Homo sapiens: one gene and its partners. The protein of the gene in region 3 interacts with the protein of the main gene of each other region in a pairwise test. Each region holds a gene or a part of one and is shown on either strand. Other genes may lie near its edges.

What was found.
Region 1: the proteins of SYT4 (region 3) and NBR1 interact in binary tests that used the Homo sapiens proteins (3 or more experiments, as listed by UniProt).
Region 2: the proteins of SYT4 (region 3) and NDUFA12 interact in binary tests that used the Homo sapiens proteins (3 or more experiments, as listed by UniProt).

The regions. Positions count from the first base shown.
Region 1 is NC_000017.11:43,174,177-43,181,290, forward strand, and holds part of NBR1 (next to BRCA1 gene 1 protein), read left to right. Parts: intron 1-1,614; 5' UTR 1,615-1,623; coding exon 1,624-1,725; intron 1,726-3,759; coding exon 3,760-3,822; intron 3,823-5,217; coding exon 5,218-5,236; intron 5,237-6,618; coding exon 6,619-6,641; intron 6,642-7,114. UniProt on the Homo sapiens protein: Ubiquitin-binding autophagy adapter that participates in different processes including host defense or intracellular homeostasis.
Region 2 is NC_000012.12:94,972,648-94,979,761, reverse strand, and holds part of NDUFA12 (NADH dehydrogenase [ubiquinone] 1 alpha subcomplex subunit 12), read left to right. Parts: intron 1-7,114. UniProt on the Homo sapiens protein: Accessory subunit of the mitochondrial membrane respiratory chain NADH dehydrogenase (Complex I), that is believed not to be involved in catalysis. Complex I functions in the transfer of electrons from NADH to the respiratory chain.
Region 3 is NC_000018.10:43,274,426-43,281,701, reverse strand, and holds the start of SYT4 (synaptotagmin-4), read left to right. Parts: upstream 1-4,211; 5' UTR 4,212-4,420; coding exon 4,421-4,454; intron 4,455-7,276. UniProt on the Homo sapiens protein: Synaptotagmin family member which does not bind Ca(2+). Involved in neuronal dense core vesicles (DCVs) mobility through its interaction with KIF1A.

The DNA of each region.
Region 1 (7,114 bases), on a different chromosome or scaffold from region 3:
GTAAACCTTTGGTTACAGCAAATTGGTCCTGAGTTGATAATTATGAAAGAAGCTAGCTTATGGGTCCATAGGGATTCATTATATTCTCTCTACTTTTGTATAGATTTAAATTTTCCCATAAAAATATTTTAAAAAATAGTCCGGGCATGGTGGCTCACGCCTGTAATCCCAGCACTTTGGGAGGCCGAGGTGGGTGGAATCACGAGGTCAGGAGATCGAGACCATCCTGGCTATCACGGTGAAACCCCGTCTCTACTAAAAATACAAAAAAATTAGCCAGGCGTGGTGGCGGGCGCCTGTAGTCCCAGCTACTCAGGAGGCTGAGGTGAGAGAATCGCTTGAAACCAGAAGGTGGAGGTTGCAGTGAGCCAAGATTGTGCCACTGCACTTGAGCCTGGACGACAGAACAAGACTCTATCTCAAAATAAATAAATACAATAATATAAAATAATTATATTATTATAGTTTGGTTAAAACATTAGTTGACTATGGTCAGTTCATTGTTGGGGCAGAAGTGGGAGATGCGGGGGTATATGTGAATGAGGATAGCCTTGAGTTGATTGTTGGTTTAACTAAGTGTTTATTACTCTCCACTTTTATATATGTTTGAAATCCCCCATTTAAAAAATCAGTACAAGGCCAGGTGCGGTGGCTCATGCCTGTAATCCCAGCATTTTGGAAGGCCAAGGCAGGCAGATCATGAGGTCAGGAGATCGAGACCATTTTGCCTAACACGGTGAAACCCCGTCCCTACCAAAAATACAAAAAAAAAAAAAAAAATTAGCCGGATGTGGTGGCGGGCACCCCAGCTACTCGAGAGGCTGAGGCAGGAGAATGGCGTGAACCCAGGAGGTGGAGGTTGCAGTGAGCTGAGATCGTGCCACTGCACCCCAGCCTGGGGCGATAGAGCGAGACTCCGTCTCAAAAATAAATAAATAAATAAAATAAAATAAAAAATCAGTAGATTGTGAAAAAACATAGTAACTTGGATGGAGGGCATTGAATGCTACCTCTGTGTAGTTTCTTGGCTAGTGTTTTGGCCTGTAAGTTCGTAAAACTGGTAGAAAACCTAGGTTCTCAAGTTAGGACAACCCTCCTTCTGCAAGAAAAATGTAGAATGTCACTCTCAAGTCATACAAGAATACAAGTTCCCTGAGGGCAGAGACCTTATCTCTCTTATCCATGTTGGTATGTCCTGCTACTAGTAAGTATTTGTTTAGTTAACCAGTCATCATAAAGTACCGTAAGGATTTTACAAATGCTAGATGATTTCTGGGAATGTGGTCAAAATTTAAATACTTTCAGCATACTTCTGTTTCCACATGTTTCCAACATGTGGAAGTTCCTAATAACTTCAAGAATAATTTTTGTGACTTAAGTACAAGTCTTTATGGCATGGTTTTAGCCTATCTTTCTTTCCTGAAACAATTCCTATTTAACAGTGATGGTAAGTTTCGTAAGAACAGGGACAGTGTTTCTTTTGTTCATTGCTGTCTCCCAAGCCCAGCCCATATTGGGTCCTCACAAGTATTTGCTGAGTGAACTTTTAGTGCAACTTATAGAACCCTTTCTAATGTGTTTTTCTCTCTCTCCCACCAACCTTCTCAACCCTAGCCTCACAGCATGGAACCACAGGTTACTCTAAATGTGACTTTTAAAAATGAAATTCAAAGCTTTCTGGTTTCTGATCCAGAAAATACAACTTGGGCTGATATCGAAGCTATGGTGAGTGTTACTTTATTTTGTTTCTCCTTGGTTTAAGCATGGTTATTTTTTCCAAAGGTAGCTATTTTTAGCAGTGTTGTTTCATAGCTGTGAAGTCTGTCATAGTTACCATTTCTGGGCCTTTTGGAAAATTGCTTTTGATAGGGTTTCAGTATTCATATATGAGATGTGCCCCAATAAAGGGAACCAACACATAAATTTCCTTTTGAACATTTTAGAAAGGGAAGGTAAAATTGTTTTTAGTGAGATAGGATTTAGAAAACCTATTAATTTTAGAACCAGTATGAGGAGTGAATTGGTGTGGACTCCACCCAACCAGATCCCAAGGAAATGTTCTCTTGTGTGAGGATATGACTTGTGTTTTGCACAAGGATATAACTTGTGTTTTGCAAGAGCCTATCAATTGTTTTTATTGCTAGGTCAGAGGTTGAGTATCTCAGAGTTGAGCAGGAAAAACTTTCATACCTGCTTAGACAGCAGTTCACCTGTTCCGTTTTTTTGCTAAGGCTTTTCCTCCTCTTGGTTTGCCCTTTGTACTCTTCTGTTTTTGTTCAGTTTGCAGTGGTGAATGTTTTACTTCCTGTGTTGACTGTGTTTCTCTCTGAAACCCTTTGGTAAAAATCTACGTTTACCTGGTTATATCTGATGATAACTAAAAAGGGAAAGAAATGGTAGATCTTAAAAGATGATCTGAGGTAGTTGTCTGCCTTCCAGCAAATACCTGTTCATACTGTCCTATCAGTGACAGTGAGACCCGTCTCAAAAAAAAAAAAAAGATTGGATTCAGAAAGAAGTTAGATCTTGTTTGCCAAAAGATGTGAAAATCAGTTATCTTTCTTTTCCTAGTAGTTAAATGAGCTGACAGCTTGCCTTTTTTCTTCCTTGTAAATTTTAAATTGTATAAGTATAATACATGCCCATTTTAAGAAGAGAAACCATCTCAAGCAGTTAATAGCCCTCCATTCTCCCCCCCCTCATCTGTTACTCCCACCTTCTTTGGGTAACCAATGTTAACAGCCCTGTATGTACTTTAAATTTTCCATGTTCATGCAGATATCATACTAGGATCATACTATAAACATTATTTGGCCAGGCACAGTGGCACACGCCTAGAATCCCAGCACTTTGGGAGGCCAAGATGGGTGGACCACTTCAGCTCAGGAGTTTGAGACCAGACTGGGCAACATGGTAAAACCCCATCTCTACCAAAAAAATACAAAAATTAGCTGGGCCTGGTAGCAGGCACCTGTGGTTCCAGCTACTCCGGAGGTTGAGGTGGGCGAATTGCTTGAGTGCTGGAGGTTGAGGCTGCAGTGAGCCAAGATCAAGCCACTATAATCCAGCCTGAGCGACAGAGTGAGACCCATCTCAAAAAAAAAAAAAAAAAGATATTTTTCGTTTTTTTTTTTTCTTATCTTGAAACTTCAGGAGATATCCATCTATACACATAACTTATACACTGTTCTACAGGATAAACTCTGTCCTATACAAATGTGAGATTAATGGGTCACAAAGCATTTTATTTGAAATTTTAATAGATTCTGCCAAATGCTTTGCAGAACAATTGTAGCAGCACACAGAAATACATGACAGTGTCCTGAAGTTTTGACAACACTGGATGTTATGGCTTTAAAAAACATTTGCTGTTCCCTACCCCACACCCCACCCAAAACACACACACACACACACACACACACACACACACACACACACACACACAGTTTGGTATTCTGATGAGATGTCATCTCATTGCTTCAATTTGCATTGTTCTGACCACCAGAAAGTTTGAAAGTCTTCTGATGTATTTGTTAGGTGTTCTGATTTCCTCTTGTATGAATTTTATGTATATTTTTACCTGGGTTGTTAATTGTATCATTAGCAGTTTTGCTGGTACTCTGGGTGTGTTGCAGATATTAACCCTTTGTTATGGGTTATTAAGGTTGTTTGTTGTTTGTCTTTTGATTTTGTGGGTTTTTTTTACTTTGACTTCTGTGTACATTATAACCTGCCTTTAAATATGTATCTCTTTTATAGGTAAAAGTTTCATTTGATCTGAATACTATTCAAATAAAATACCTGGATGAGGAAAATGAAGAGGTAAAATATATTATGGCACTTATTGCTAGGTGTTCAGAATAGGGATCTTATTTCTCCAGTGATATGGGCTTTAATAATTCAAAATAGTGTTTAGCTTATTTGTGTGGTGGTTTAAATATATTTGATAACTGAATATTCTAAGAAGACTTGCAGCATCTGAGATGGAGTTGAGAAATGGAGAAGCAACACTGAAGAATATCTCAGAGATAACTTTCACTTAAAAAAAAAAAAAGGAAACAGGGTCTCACTATGTTGCTCAGGCCAGTCTTGAACTCCTGGGCCCAAGCAGTCCTCCCACCTCAGCCTCCCAAAGTGCTGGGATTATAGGTGTGAGACACCCACCATGCCTGGCCTGGCCTGAGAGAACCTTTTTTTTTTTTCTTTTTTTTTTTTTGTGAGATGAAGCCTCACTCCATAACCTAGGCTGGAGTGCAGTGGTGCGATCTCTGCTCACTGCAACCTCCAGCTCCTGGGTTCAAGTGATTCTCCTGTCTCAGCCTTCTGAGTAGCTGGGATTACAGGTGTATACCACCACGCCTGGCTAATTTTTGTATTTTTAGTAGAGACGGTATTTCACCATGTTGGCCAAGCTGGTCTCGAACTCCTGGGCTCAAGCGATCAGCCCACCTCGGACTCCCAAAGTGCTGGGATTACAGTTGTGAGCTACCACACCTGGCCAAGATAACTTTTAAAATTATATAGTGACCTTAAGTTCACATATAGCACAAGCTACCACTTAGTTTATAATAATACAAATATAATGGCTAAGCTTTTTTTTTTTTTTTTTTTAAAGAGGGTCTCACTCTGTTGCCCAGGCTGGTGTGCATTGGCATAGCTTGCTGCAACCTAGAGCTCCTGGGTTCAAGGAATCCTCCCATCTCAGCCTTCTGGGTAGCTAGGACATACCTCTCTGCATCTGGCAAAATTTTTTAATTCTTTGGAGGGATGGAATCTCACTTTGTTGCTCAGGCTAATGGCTAAGCTTTATTGAGTGGTTACAGTGTGTCAGACTAGCCACAGTACCATGTATTGAGTACATTATTATCATCACTATTTTACTCATGAGGAAACTGAGGCACAGAGAGGTGAAAATAACTTGTCCAAATGCACAAAAACTTGGAAGTAGTAAAGTAGCCGTTCAGTCCATACCCTCTGGCTGTAGAACTCAAGCTCCTAACTGTTATATTGCACTGCCTTTTAATGTATCTGAAATAAAGGAGGGCACAGTAGATAAGCAATAAAATTTCTTAAGTGTTATTCATGACTAGCAAGTGATATGGAAAAGCTGAACGCTTGGCCTGAGTTTTTGTCTGTCCTATGGGGCTGGTCCTAGTAACAGAAATGCTCAACTGATGAGACACTTATAATTCACTGTTGCTTTTTTTCCTTTTATAGGTATCCATCAACAGTCAAGGTGAGTCCCTAAGAGAGTCTGTTCAGCCTTGTTTAAAAACCTTAATCTGCTCATTGAGGCATTTCTATTTATACTCAAACCTTATTGCAGTATTAATTTTAGAGTGACATTGCACTGATGGACATTAGTTACCTAGGGGATTTTATTGTATAGCAGTTTTTTATATATAGGATGATGCCTTTGAATGGACCCTAAGGACAGCTTTAATGGGAGGTTCTCATATTTAAGATGCCAGTCCTCTGAAATTAATATGCCTCCCAGTTCAACACATATAAGTATTCCCATGGTGTTGCATTTGTTTCTGACTTGGTATATATGTTAATATCAACTTATAAAACAAGTGGTATTCCAAAAGTTTATTTATCAGATGTTCAGAGCTTGGAGTGCATTTTCCCATAGGAACCATGTTATAGTTGAAGATTAGTTTCCCACGATAGCCCCTAAAATCTTAATTTAATCAGGTGAAATGATAGTATTAACATTGAACTCTCAGTGCGTAAATGTGAGGGACCTGGGTTGAGATTTTGTAACTGGAAGATTCCCAGTAGTGATGAAGGAGGGATTTAAGGGGAAGAACTGATCTACAGTAGATGCTGTTTGCAACAAAAAGGGAGTTTGTCAGCAAAAAGATAGTTGCTGTTCATATATAATAAGCTAAGAATTCTTTAAAGTCAGGATTAGCTGTACATTTAACAAATTTTTATTGTATATATTGAAGGTGCACAACATGATGTTATGAAATACATATACAGTAATGCATCGCTTAATGACAGAGATTTGTACTGAGAAATGCATCAATTAGGTGATTTTGTCATTATATGGACATCATAGAGTGTACTTACACAAACCTAGATGGTATAGCCTAGTACACACCTAGGATATATGGTATAACCTATTGCTTATAGGCTGCGAACCTGTAGAGCATGTTACTGTGCTGTATACTATAGACAGTTGAAACACAATGGTATTTGCATATCTAAACATAGAAAAGGTACAGTAAAAATGTGGCATTATAATCTTATGGGATCACCATCATACACATGGTTGACCAAAATGTTATGTGGCAATGGTTACTGTAGTGAAGCAAATTAACATATCTATCATCTCATTATAGTGGCCCTGTGGTGCCCTGAGCCCTCCCCAGAAACCAGCCATAATCTACTCATTTAGCAAAAATCATGAATATAATTTACGATTATTTAACTATAATATGTTCCTCATGTTGTACAGTCCATCTTTAGGATTGGCTATCCTTAATCTTATGGAATCTTTGGTTCTTGAATGAATGAATGGATGTGTACAAAATAAAAATAATTTTAAAATAATAGAATCTTTTGGGGTGTGTGAAGAAGTATCATGGTGTATATTTTTTGTTCTTTTAGGAGAATATGAAGAAGCGCTTAAGGTAATGATTATTTAATCTCATTTTTAAATAATTTAAAAAATATTATTATGGGTTGGTTTTTTTTCTTTTTTTGAGATGAGGTTGTGCTCTGTCATCCAGGCTGGTGTGCAGTGGCACAATCTGGGGTTGCTGCAGTCTTCACCTCCCAGGCTTAAGTGATCCTCCCACCTCAGCCTCCCGAGTAGCTGGAACTACAGAAACACGTCACCACGCCCGGCTAACTTTTTATATTTTTCTTAGAGACAGGGTTTCACCATGTTTCCCAGGCTGGTCTGGAACTCTTGGGCTCAAGCAATCTGCTGGCCTTGGCCTCCCAAGTGCTGGGATTATAGGCATGAGCCACTGCGTCTGGCCTAAAATATTTATTGACTGAAACTCAAACCTGAATTCCATTAGTTATGGGGAGAGACTAGTACGTATAAACACAGTGAAACCTGTTTATAGGGAGACTGATGAATGGGCACGACACTCAG
Region 2 (7,114 bases), on a different chromosome or scaffold from region 3:
CCAGGTTCAAGCAATTCTTGTGCCTCTGCCACCTGGGTAGCTGGGATTACAGGTCCCATGACCACACCCAGCTAATTTTTGTATTTTTTTTTTTATAGGGGTGGGGTTTCTCCATGTTAGCCAGGCTGGTCTCAAACTCCTGGCCTCATGTGATCCGCCTGCCTCAGCCTTCCAAAGTGCTGGGATTACAGGTGTAAGCCACCTCACCCCGTCCCTTTTTAATCCTTTCTGTGTAGTTGTGTTCATAACCATACTCCATTTTACTTGCTTTTTTCCATCAATATTATAAGCAATTTTTCATGTTATTAAAACAATCCTTATAATCACCATTAAAAGATTTTTTCTGATTATAAGAATATACAATTGCTATAGAAAATTTGGAAATCTGGAGAATTATTAATATGAGGTAGAAACAATTCTTTGGCCCAGAAGCAATACTGTTAATATTTTATTCACTGATTCAACAACTATTTGAGGGTCTGCTTTTGGGTAGAGAAAGAATGTTTTGGGGGTGTTTGTTTTAGAGGTGGGGTCTTGCTCTGTTGCCGAGGATGGAGTACAGGAGCTATTCACAGGTGCAATCATAGCACACTACAGCCTTGAACTCCTGGGCTCAAGCATCCCCCCTGCCTCAGCCTCCCATGTAGCTGGGACTCCACAGAGGAATGTTTTTTAAAGACCACAGTGTGAAAAACTGATTGTAGTTTATTGGTCACACCTTCTTTAGAAGAAAGCTTATTATTATAAATAACATATACCTACACATTTCTCATATAATGTATACAACATTTTCTGACTTGCTTCTCCCTCCCCTCACTTAATATGTCACAGACATTTTTCCTGTCTCACTAAATACTGTGTCAGTTCGAGTGTTTTAGTTTCTGTGGGGCTTTTGTATTTAGAAAGGATTGTTGGGCAATTTGGATTTAAAATTAATATACTATTTATTATAGTTGCAAATTTAAAAACCTAATTGTTTTTCATTCTTGAGGTTCAATTTATAAATAGGATAAAAAGATTAGTAAATTGAATTACTTTTTGCATAAAAATAAGGAACAATCATTTTCTCTTGTTCTTTGATGAATGTTCGGTAAACTCTAATGGAAAGGATTACATTGTCCTAAACAGTAATACCCATTTGCAAATTTAGTTAATACATCTCTTTAAGCAGTTTAGTCACATTTATAAATTGAACATATTTGATATTTGAGTTTTTTCAATTCTTCAAATCCCCAGTGCATAGGCAGATTAACCTATCAAGCAAAATGTTCCTAAGCACTTAAATGACTCTTGTTTACTCAAGCCCAAAACTTCAGTGTCATCCCCCAGTCTAATTCTCTAATGTCCAGTCTGTTAGCAAGTTCATCCTGCTTTCGTTTCTCCATATATCCCACATCTCATCACTGCCTCTATGACTGTTACCCTAGTCCAAGGCACAATTATCTCTTGCCTGGACATCTACAGTCACCTCCCAACTGGTTTGATAACATTCTTGCAGTGCACTAGCGTTCCCAACATGCTAAGTGATGAGAGTGCATATTTTTAAATGTAAATCAGACACATCAAGTCTCTGCTCAGAATGACCCAGTGGCTTCCCATCACAGTGAGAGTAAAAACCCCAACTCCTTCCATGCTCTGCGAGGCGTTATGTGATCACAGTCTGCATGCACTGTCCTAGTCACAGCCCTGTTGACTCTGACTTGGCCACATTGGCCTTCTTGCTTTTCCTTGAACAGTGAACATACTCCCAACTCAGTCTCTGCACTAGCTGTTTCCCCAGATTTGGCATGGCTCACACACCTTCACTTTATTCAAGTGCCCATCTGGTGGCTCTTCAGGTGGTCTAGTCTATAAGAGCCCTGTTCCCTCTCATACTCCATACTCTTCCCCTGCTCTGGTTTTTTCCTTGATGGCACTTAACTACCTCTGCTTAACATTTTTTTTATATTATTTAATTTATTGTATGTTTCCCCAAATACCATGTTGGAACAGTGCCTACCACATAGTATTTCTGCAATAGATTTTTGTTGAATGAATGGATGTACATATACATTTTACTTGAAACAAACATTATTTTTTGGGTATGATAATCAGTTTTCTTCACTTTAGCTGATCCAAAAATGGCATCTTCTGCTACTCCTTTATAGCTTTCTAATGAATTTGAAACTAGATTTACCTCTGAATTACATTGCAATTTCAACCTGTCCTTTTTAGTACTTTGACCCACTGAATCATTTGTTACAGTTTTGTGGGGTTTTTGGGGCAGGGGCGGAGGGGTGTTTTTTTTTTTTGACACAAGGTCTTGCTCTGTCACCTAGGCCAAGTGTAGTGCCGTGATCATAACTCACTGCAACCTCAAAATCCTGGGCTCAAGCTATCCTTCTGCCTCAGCTTCCTGAGTAGCTGGGAGTATAGGTGCATGCCACCACACCCAGCTAATGTTTTTGTTTTTGAGAGAGAAGGTGTCAAACTCCTGGCCTCAAGTGATCCTCCAACCTTGGCCTCCCAAAGCACTGGGATTATATGTGACAGCCACTGTGCCTAGCCTGTTACAGTCTTCTAAAATATTATTTCTCTAAATAAATTGCTAGCTGTCAATGGCAGATAATATTTTCTTCAAAGTAAGTCCTTCCTAATGTTTATTTTCTGCTCCAGAAAAATCAGAATATTAGGAGACTGTGTTCTAAGAAACTACAAACTGCATTAATTGGGTAGTTTCTCTTATGTTACAGAATGTTACTTTTCTTTATACCCTTTCTCTGTTAAAATGTGTTCATTATAAGCAGAAGACAAGATTGTTTTGATTTTTAAAACTCAGCTTTTATTTAACACATTTCACTGAGTATTCATTGCTTCATTTAATATTGATTCTAACATTTTACAAAGATGCCTTGTTGGAAAATTCCATATGTGGAATGTGGAAATAAACTATGTATTACTCTTGGTGAATGAGGAACTGCTCAGCATGTTCATTATAGAAAATTCAAAAAATAACAAAAGAAATAAGAATAGCCTGTTATCCCACCACTTGTAGAAACCACTGCTATTAATATTTTGATACACATTTGACCTTCAGTATCTGTGGGTTCTGCATCCATGGATTAAACCAACATTAGATGGAAATTATATCAGAAAAAAGTTCACAAAGTTCCAAAAAGCAAAACTTGGATTTGCTGTGTGCCGAGTATTATGTTGAATCCACATGAATGAAGTCATATGCAGACATCATATTAGGCATTATAAGTAACCTGGAGATGATTTAAAGTATACAGGAGGTTGTGCATAAATTATATGCAAATGCTACATTTGCATATCCACAAATGATCATTTGTGGATTTTGGCATCCACAGGGTGTCCTGGAATCAATCCCCCATAGACACTAGGGACAACTGTTTATTCTTATCTCCTCGATTTCTATGCATATATATTCTTTTGTTTTTGTTATTAATGTAATTGAGCTTTTTGAAGAAGTAGCCTGGGTTTGCAAGTTATTTTAACTTTTGGCAGCCTGGTTTTCTCACTTACTATATTTGGATAATAATATTTATCACGAGTTGTTATAAGGATCAAATAGGTTAATATTTGTAAAGTGTATAGATTAGTGCCCATGACTTATAAATGCTATCTATAAGTATTAAATAAATTAGGCAAATAACCCGCTTTTAAAACATATATGGTGAACATTTTCTCAAGTCATAAAATATTCTCTGTCTCTCTCTCTCTTCTCTTTTTTTAGAAATGGGATCCCCCGCTGTCCAGGCACGATCATGGCTTTCTGCAGCCTTGAACTCCTGGGCTCATGTGATCCCTGCCTCAGCCTCCCAAGTAGCTAGGACTACAGGTGCCTGCCACCATGCCTGGCTAATTTTTGCATTTTTTGTAGACATGGGGTCTCATGTTGCCCAGGCTGGTCTCGAACTCATGGCCTCAAGCGATCCTCCCACCTTGGCCTCCAGAAGTGCTAGGATTACAGGTGTGAGGCACCATACCTGGCCAAAATATTATCTATAGCATAAATGTTAATAATGCCTTAGTCTTCCATCATATGGATATGCCATGAGCTATTCCCTTTATTTTTGGTTTTGTTCTTTCCATTCTTTCACTGTTATAAATAAAGCTCTGATAAATATCCTTGTACATGAGTATTCATATCCTCATTTCCTTAAATGGAAATGGATCCACCAGGAGTATACATGTTTTATAAGTTTTTGATACCTGCTGCCAAATTGCCCTCTAGAAGGGCTATACCAATTTATATTCTCAGGATAAATATATTGAATAGTATATGAGTACTGATTTCTCTTTAAGTTCACTGATTCTGGGTTTTATTTTTTAAAATCTTTGCTAATTTAGCAAGTAAAAAATTATACCTTAATGTGCATTGCCTTGATTAAACTTCATTGTTTGCCACTATAATTTTTTCTTTGTTGACATCTCTTGATGTTTTTTGTCCAGTTTTCTATTGGATATTTGACTTTTTCTGATTTGTAATGATAGATGAACCTTTTTTCTGTATATTACAAATATTTTCCCCTGTTTCTTTTAGTCTTTAATCCTGTTTATAGTGTTTTAGGACATACACTTTTCAATTTTAAAAACAATTTTAATTTTTTGGGTACATAGTAGGTGTATATATTATGGGGTGAGATGTTTTGACACAGGCATGCAATATGTGATCATCACATCATGGAAAATGGGGTACCCATCCCTTCAAGCATTTGTCCTTTGTGTTACAAACAATCCAATTATACTCTTTTAGTTGTTTTAAAATGTACAATTAAGTTATTATAGACTATAGTCACTGTGTTGTGCTGTCAAATACTAGGTCTTATTCATTCTTTCTGACTATTTTTTTTTATACCCATTAACCATCCCCACCTCCCCCTAATCCCCAAACCAACCCCACTACCCTTCCCAGCCTCTGGTAATCATTCTTCTACTCTCTATCTCCATGAGTGCAATTGTTTTGAGTTTTAAGTATCACAAATAAATGAGAACATGCAATGTTTGTCTTTCTGTACCTGGCTTATTTCACTTAACGTAATGATCTCCAGTTCCATCCATGTTGTTACTAATGACAGGATGTTGTTCTTTTTTATGGCTGAATAGTACCCCATTGTATTTAAGTATCACATTTTCTTTACTCATTCATCTGTTGACAGACACTTAGGTTGCTTCCAAATTTTGGCTGTTGTGAACAATGCTGCAACAAACATCGGAGTGCAAAAGTCTCTTCGATATACTGATTTCCTTTCATTTAGGTTATACCCAGCAGCATCATTGCTGAATCATATGGTAGCTCAATTTTTAGTTTTTTGAGGAACTTCCTAACTGTTCTCTATAATGGTTGTACTAACTTACATTCCCACCAACGTGTTTGAGGGTTCCCTTTTCTCCGTATCCTCCCAGCATTTATTATTGCCTGTCTTTTGTATAAAAGCCATTTTAACTGGGATGAGATAATATCTCATTGTAGGTTTTTTTTACTGCTCCTTGTGGACCAGAGCGGTAGCCTTAATCTCAGCACTTTGGGAGGCCGAGGCGGGCAAATCACTGGAGGCCAGGAGTTCGAGACCAGCCTGGACAACATGGTGAAACCCCGTCTCTACTAAAAATAAAAAAATTAGCCCGGCATGATGGCATGCGCCTGTAATCCCAGCTACTCGGGAGGCTGAGGCAGGAGAATCACTTGAGCCCAGGAGGCAGAGGTTGCAGTGAGCCAAGATATCACCACTGCACTCCAGCCTGCGCCACAGAGCAAGACTCTGTCTCAAAAAAAAAAAAAAAAAAAAAGACCCAAGAGTCTGTTTTGCAAGTAAAACTCTCTGGTGTGGCAATCTGAAAGATATGATTTTTTTTTACCCCTTATTTAATAATAAAATAACAAGGGTTATATTTGCCTAGCAGACTATAAACATTTCCTTATTTCTTATAATTCTTTATAAACTGCCATAATGGGTATAGTTTATTATTTATTAATTCCCTGATTCTTGCATGTAGGCTTGCTAGGATAAATATTTTCAGATTTTGTGTATTGTGATAAAAATTATCTTTTCCTTTTTTGGAGCATTTTCCATTTCTCCATGAGCTCTTCACTTCCTCACTTAAGTAACTGAATAGGCATAAGCTTGGGACTATGGTTCCTTAAATATCATTTTAACCTTCCGGAGTCTTGACAGCAATTTTTTGAATAAAATTTTTCTTTAGTTAAGCTGACTCAGTGAGGTAAAAGTTAAATATTTCAGCTGTGCCGTAAGCTCACATAAAGCCCCTTGATAAGTGACAGCCTTGACTTTAACAGCTAATCCCTCCTCTGAGTGGTTAGTGGAGCCTGGCTCACCACTATCGTCTCATAAGGGCTTCAGCGCTCGTGTGCTCATATGAATGGTTACAGTTTATTGGTCCAGGTCACTTTCACTAATCCCCAGCTTCCTTTAGAGGATGTAAGACAGACACTGACCTAGCTTGTACAGCCTTCTGCATTCTTCATTGTATAAGCTGATCATGATACAATTATCTTTAGACATAAACATAGCAACTGTAATCATATTTTATCTCTATTCAGACTGGTTTTTAGTCAGTTACCTAGCTATATCTATCAATTACTGCTAGCAAATATTCTTAGGTTTACATAGCAACAAAAATTTTTTCTCATTAGCTTTAGTTTTAGTTATTCCACTGAAACATCCTCCTCTTGTCCTTTTCTCTGCAGCTAGATAATCACTTTTCCCCCCACCCCCGGGCTGCAGTTCTGTGGCTGTCTTCTCATTTTCTTTTCCCCCAATAAGGTCATCTCTGTCTTGTGAGCTCCAGGTCTTAGAGGCTGGGACAAATTCTGTCTTCCCTTCTTTCCCATGTAAACCCCTCAGCTTAGCTTCCTGCACTCTGTCCCACAAACTTTGATTCCTCCTTTCCCTGTCATTAGCAGCAGCATCGGTGGTCTCTTCCCTTTCAACTCCAGGTATCCAGCTTTTAGGTCTGATTTCTGGAACATATCCTCTTAAATTGTTAAGCACTTATGACTGAAATATTTGTGAATTGGGGGTCGATTTAACTTTTTTCTCAAGACAGGGTCTCACTATGTTGCCCAGGCTGGTCCTGAGCTTCTGGCCTC
Region 3 (7,276 bases):
GTGCCACAAAGCCTAGCAAGTTTTATTCTTGACTTTTTAACTTAATCCTTTACATTTCTCTATGTTTAATAAATCATTGTGCATTCTGTTATTTAAGTATTTTTACTATGAGCAGCATATGGTTAAACTTTATTTTTTAACTCAGTGTAAGATCTTTTACCTTGGAATTTGTCAATCTTCCATGCTTACTTAGATGATTAGATTTTGCTCAATTTATCTGCTTGTTTTTCTTTTGTATCATTTTTATGATTCATTTTAACCTTACTCTTGCTTCCTGTTTTTTTAATATCTGTCTATTTTATGTAAGAGTATATATAATCCAGTAATTTTTGAGCTTTAATCCATGCCAGTTTTACCAGTGTTTATCTTTATATTTTCAAAATAAATATTGTCTAATAATAAAACATTTTTTACATCTCCATTACCTGAAATGAATAATTTAGTATACTTCTGCTCTGCCCAATCCCAGTTTTTTAGTGATAATGGAAGGCTAAGAGAGGTCTCACTTAGGAATAGATTGGAAAAGGAGGTAGAGGAGCTAGCAAGAAATACATTCAAGATGAACTGAAAGAGAAAAATCTTCTAGGATGGCTCTAGATCAAATTATTGTTGAGATATCAAGACTTAGGAATTTGAGAAGTGTATTCAAAGGCCGCAGTGTGAAGGCAGGCCTAAAAAGTAAAAATAAAATGGAGATAGAAGTCCTAAAAATAAATTAGTGCAGAGAAGATAAAAAATTAAGAATCTTGTGGAATATTTGGGGTTAGCATTAGTGAAGGCCTTTGGTTTATCTTTTTGGGATTGTTGGTATGTAGATCAAGGATATGTCAAGCTGGCTTAAAAGACTTCACTAGAGATAGTGTTGTAAGAATTTAAATCAGAAGAAATCCATGAGTGCTGATAAGTCAGAAACTTCATAGTACAAATGAAACTTCAACTGATTCTTAAAGGATAAAGAATTTATAGAGAGATACAGGGAAAGAAAAAATGCAATCTGTGTAAGAATCATAATGGATCCATAGTGAGGGGGAAAAGGTCAATAAGAAGAGACTGAATAAGATAGGTGTGATGGCTGTAGAATAGTGCTGACCGGAGTTTGTAGAAAGAACAAGGCAAAATAAATATGTATGTAACGATGATCTCATAAGTTTCTTTGTCTAGTTCTAGAGAAAAAAGCTGTCAACTTCTTGTATAGTCTGTAAGCTCCATGAAGAAAAAGATCATTTTTTCTCATTTTGACAAATATAAATCACTCACTTAGTAAAAATCTAGTGATACATGTTTAATATGTGTTGAAAGAAAATAAAGAAAAGAAGAATATAAGCTTTACTTATTTATTTGGTGGTTTGGTTTCACTGTCATATATGAACTATTAAATGCACATAGTAAATGCTGAATATGTTGAAGAAAAACAAATGTAGTAAAGGGATTTCTGTGATACCAAATGAAGAGGGATTTGTCTTGCAAGATTTTTACTTGGGTGTGTTTGTAATATAAATCTATTCCATTAGCATTATTGTCAGCATTCATAATATAATAATATGGAACATTGAAACAATTATCCATTTCCCATCATCAGATACTTCAGTCTACTCCACCCACATACCAGTAGGTAAAATGATATTTTAGTAAAGTGATATTTTATTACTAATGTAGGTATTACTAAAGATTACTGAAGATCATGGCAACATTTTCAAAACTTTTTGAAATTATATTTTTCTTAGCATGAGGTTCTAAATACTTTCACCAATAATATTTTTCAAAGAAAAGAGAAAATATAGACTGAACTATACAATTAATAAATAACATAAACAATAATTTAAAAATCAAAATATATACTAAATTTAATTACGTTATAAAATAGAATAAAAACATATAATTAGTCATCAATAGCTTTCAGATTAAACTGAATTTCTTAAAACTAAATTCAAGTGTTCTATTAATTGTTTCTCAAATTATGTATAGACATTTGCAATTGGAAAAGAAAGTAATGTGAAAGTTGAACCATTTTAACAGTGAAAAAATCATTCTGAAGTAAATACTGCCGCCTGCACAGAATGGTCTGTGTTTGCCAAAGCAAGAACTTGTTTGAGGCTGTGTGTTTTGGGTGGTGAAAAAGTGGTTACCTAGCAACAACTCCTCCTCCCAAGTCTCCCCTGCTAGAGCGGTATTTTGCACGTCAGTAAATTGGTTACTTGTTTGATGGATCTAAAAAGAATAATTCAGTAATGTGGTAGGGTGTGAATCTCAATCATAAAAACGTACAGGTTTTTCTCTGTGTGGGGTCTGTCTACTGCCCACTCCTCATCTGGTGTTGCTAGAAGCTTGTCTAAAGAGATTGAATAATACCTAAAATGTTATTCATCAAATGAAAATGAGGGAAACTTCAGGCATTTTAATTAATAACAGTTCTTTTCAGTTTGCTTATAAAGCAAGCAATGAAATAGTTACTTAGTCCACAATAGCATTAGCTCTGGGCAAGAGGTAATCTTATCACGATGTTTCCTCAGATGTCAGACAGCAAAGGATGGGGTGGGTTCCGTAGAAATAGAGTTTAAACAATCTGTACAGTTTACAGATAACAACATTATACCATCTGAAGGTAAAATTAATGAGATACTAATTTATAGAACAAACACATAAGGTATTTATGTTTACAACAAATGAGCTTAAACATATGTTAGCAATAACTTAGCTAGAAAATATATACTTTAGTAAACATCACACCATGTATTTGGTCCACCTATGATATGCATCACAAATAAATGCCACTTATTCTTTAACCTAATGGATATTTGTTTCTAGGGACAACCCTACAGGGTGCATGCATGCATAATTAAGGAAATAGGTAATCTGAATAAAGTGAAATGATAAAGACACAACCACAGACTCTGCCAGCAGAAAAATTAAATACAGCAAATTAGTTTGTGTGTTTTCAAAGCATGAAGATATAAAGTTTAAAAAAATCTGTTAGAGGAACACTCCAATGCCAAGTATGTGGGAGCAAATAGAATAGCAAAGAAAAAAGACTGGTTTATAAAATTTTCCATGATGCAAAGAACTGAAGCCAATTTCTCCCCAGACAGAGCCCTGATGCTCTGGGCTGCTGCTAGCCAATGTGCAGGGACCTGTCACTTGCACAGTAGCTTTCTGAGACTCACCCTGTATCCCTTCTCCCACATCCCAGCACACACTGAATGCCATTTCCTTATTAACTCCAGAGCAAAGAAATTCTTTGCAGAGCAATAATTGACAGTTGGAGTTACAGCTTGACTTCTTTCCTTTGAAAAATTGCTAAGCATTTGTTTTAGAAAGGCACACTCTTCAGATTCCAATGAATCAGAATCCGACACCATATTTTTCACAGTTTTTCACCTCCGAGAATATCATCAGTTTAGAAAAAGGAATGCTTTCCTTTGAAATAACCAATGTTACCAATGTTACTTTAGATGTTGGCCTGATTTTGGAAACTATTTTGTACAAACGTACTAGAAGTCAGGCCTTTTAACCATAAATGTCATTTCAGAAGCGCCTTATTATTTGCAAAAGTCATAACTGAGAGTGACTCTGAATATCCAAGGAATTATCCCCATCTGTTCCTAAGTGCTTTAACTGGTCAAATGTCAGATATTAAAGGGAAGAGAGCTGAGAGACCAGGAAAGATCAACTGTTCCAGCAAAATATTTAGACTAATAATTTATTAGAACATAAAGGATTATACTGGGAAAACTATCTTATATCAAATGCATCAATTTGTAGTGAATCTTTTCTAAATGTAATAAGTATCATAGGTATAACATGTCAAAGAAAAAAATTAAAAAGCAAGAAAACATGTTTTTGCATGTTAAAAAGAGTAATTTGAAGCAGAAACTTCTCCTCTGTAAGTTACGTTATTCTGAAAACTCAGAAACATATTTTTATTCATCTAGGTGATCAGGAGATTTTATATTAGGAACTGACAGGGATCAGTTTCGGGGCTTATCTCGGTGAGCCTCTGAGCCCCCACAAAACAGCAAAGCTAATCTCTAGTGGTCCAACAGTTAAAATAATTGATGAGCATGTGTTGAATCCTCAAGAGAGGAGGGAGGAAGCAAGAAGGAAAGCTTGAAGGGAGGAGGGGAGGGGGGCAGGTGCTGATTTCAGCCCTGTAGCGTCAGGATTGCGTCAATTCGGGTTCCAGCCACGTCTGGAGTCTCGGAGACGAGCTTCTCAGAAGAGCCAAAACAGGAACCGAGGTGGCAAATCACTGTGCGAGGGCGAGTGGACCTCCCTCTTTGCCTCCTCCCTGTTCCAGGAGCTGGTGCCCTGGGCTCTGCGCTGTTGTTTTCAGCGCTCCGAAAGCCGGCGCTTGAGATCCAGGCAAGTGAATCCAGCCAGGCAGTTTTCCCTTCAGCACCTCGGACAGAACACGCAGTAAAAAATGGCTCCGATCACCACCAGCCGGGAAGAATTTGGTAAGCAAGTTACTGAACTTATGACTGCGGTTATTCCTTGAATACTCTGGGGTGGACTGTTTATTCATTTATTTTTTGCCCGGTTGTTGAATACAGATTTCCTAGGTAGTTAATTTAAAAGGAAAATGAGAATGGCAGTCAGGCAATTGTGGCTTATTTCTGCAGCTTCTCTCCCTTCCTTGGTATCTCTCTCCCTGAAACTGTCTTCTGTTAGGGAGAATTTACCTTCAGGAAGTTCTTAAATTTTCAGGTACTTCTGTAAATTGCAGCATGTACTGAGTAAAGAAAAAGGGGTCTGTTTTTCCCATGTTGGTTTCATCTATTTTGTAGGTGATTCTTATTTGTAGGTAAATCTATATTTTATTAGGAGAAGATAAATATATCTCTGGTTACATTGGGGTTTGATCTTGGTTAAAAAAAGCAACTTGTCTATTGGGGTTTGGCAATGTATATTTTATTACAGGGCGTACCATATGGGTGTTTTTCTCTGCTATGTTTTTCTTGTATCCTTGAAATATGTTGCTAGTGAAAGACAGAATCATATGGTAGCAGGGTTAAAGAGAGTTTCAAAATGAACTGGCTCAGCCCATTTCATTTCACTGCTGAGCTAACCAAAGCCCAGAGAGATGAGGGAAGTATTATAGGTTGCACAATTAGCTAAAAGCTGCTGGAAACTTGAATTAGGGCTCCAATTTTCCCGTTCAGTTTTCCTTTTCTCACACCAAGTTTTTGGTTTCAGTACATAAAATTAGACGTACTTCATAGAGTAAAAAAGTACTATTTTTAGATCTCAGTATATTCCAAAGGAAAAAGGTCAGAATTTTACTTACACGTATTTTTTAAATCATGAAATTTCATAGAAGGTTGTGAAGAGGAGTGATATCTACAGATGTGTGATAATTGTTATTAAGCTGAGTAAAATAACTATGATCTTGACTTTCAAGATTGTAAGACCTTATCAGTAGAGAATACATAGGGAGTAGATAAGTGTTTCCACGTTATAGAAAATGTTTGCCATTTGACATAACTATTCAATAGGGACAATTTGTGATATTATGTTCATAAATGAATTTCTTTCCCAGCCTTCCATTTGGGTTATTGGGTTTATTTTGGTATGACATTTATTCCCAATTCTTCATTTGAAACCTGAATGATTTTCTAATATGGAGGAATTTTTAGAGACTGTGCCAGTGAAAATATGTTCTAGCATGGACTATCAGTCTACTTTTAAAAAATGATTTTCTACTGTTTTTATTGTTTTTACATTGGCTAAAGAACTCTCTCAGTTCATGACTTTGCTTTTGCTCCCTGGCCTTGGGTTATTATGGTCCAGGAATGTGGGTGCATTTTTTTTTCACAAAGACTTGAATAGAAGGAAAAACTGAAAAGCTGATACCAAGTTTAGCTGATTATCTTTAGCTCTTGCTTTATACTGTAGTAGTCACTGTTTCTTTTTTCCACCTGGAGAAGTCAAAGGTTTATTTCATCTTTACATGATTCAGTTTCTGTACATTAAAATACAGGATTTTTATTGCGATTTTATTGGCCTTTTTATCTTCTATTTCATTTGTCTTTTCTTAACCTTACATTCTCTGAGTTCAGTTTTATAATTGTGAAGTAGATTGGCAGAAGATTTGGGGGGATGGGGAAGGGAAGTAACAAAAGACTGGATTTCTTGTGGTTATTTAGAAAAGTTTTAACCCTTTCTGGGCTGGAACTTATAACTTTATTATTTACTATTCAGGATAAAAGCATATTGCAATGGAACTAAATGTATATAATATTACATTAGTTATTTTCACTTTGATGATATTAAGCATTGACTCTATGGATTCACTATGTATAGATGTAGTAATACTGCTTTTACTTCCATAGTGTTACTAACCATTTGTTCAAGAAAGATGCTTACATATAAAATAGGATAAGCCTTATGCATAATTGATATTACCTAATGTCAGTAATTTAATGTGCCATCATTCAAGAAAATAATGACAATTTCAGTTTGATTATCATTTGCCATGCCATGTGCTAGAGGAAGAGACAGTTATAGATAAAATTGAACTCTAAATCTCACTGTTCTCATTACATGTTAAAGAATGCTGATTCACTTATAACCATTGTTCTGTTTTTATCTTATTTAAGTTTAATTAATTTATACTTTGTATAATTCAGTGTTTGACTGAGAAATTTGGGATTGTCATACAAAGGGATGATAGTGTTATAAGTTACAAAATATCGGTACCTTGTTGCTCTTCTGTTTTTGTTTTACTTTCTCTAATATATGTATATTTCTTTTACCACTGTTCCATAATTGGGATGAAAATTATTAATGAGTTTGTGGCAATGGCAAATATCATTTCACAATCAATTTCCTACAATTGAGTGAACCACTGAGTCCCTAAATGTTTGCTGCTTGAATTCTGAGTAAAGAACTACTTAGAATTCCAGTAAAAAGTGATGCTCTGGAAAGCCTCAAAATGACAATAAAAAATAATGAAGTTAGTACTGATCCATCATATTGTAGCTGTCTCATGTTATCTGAGAAAACAAAGATAGGTCAGAGTCATTAAGCATTCCCCCATATCTGATTCAGGACCATTTTCATCTTTTTATTTCATTAATGAAAAACCACTGAAATGAAGGAATTTCTAGCACACTTTATGTTTTTCCTGTGGGGATGTATTTGTACCCGAAGTTAGTGTGAAATATACACTTAACTCATACCCAGAACAGTTGGAAAGTAATTCAATCTATCCAACCTATAGCAATTGCTAGCTCTATTAGGCTTTTCAAAAGGCTCATATCTCCAGCTCTGCTTCTTT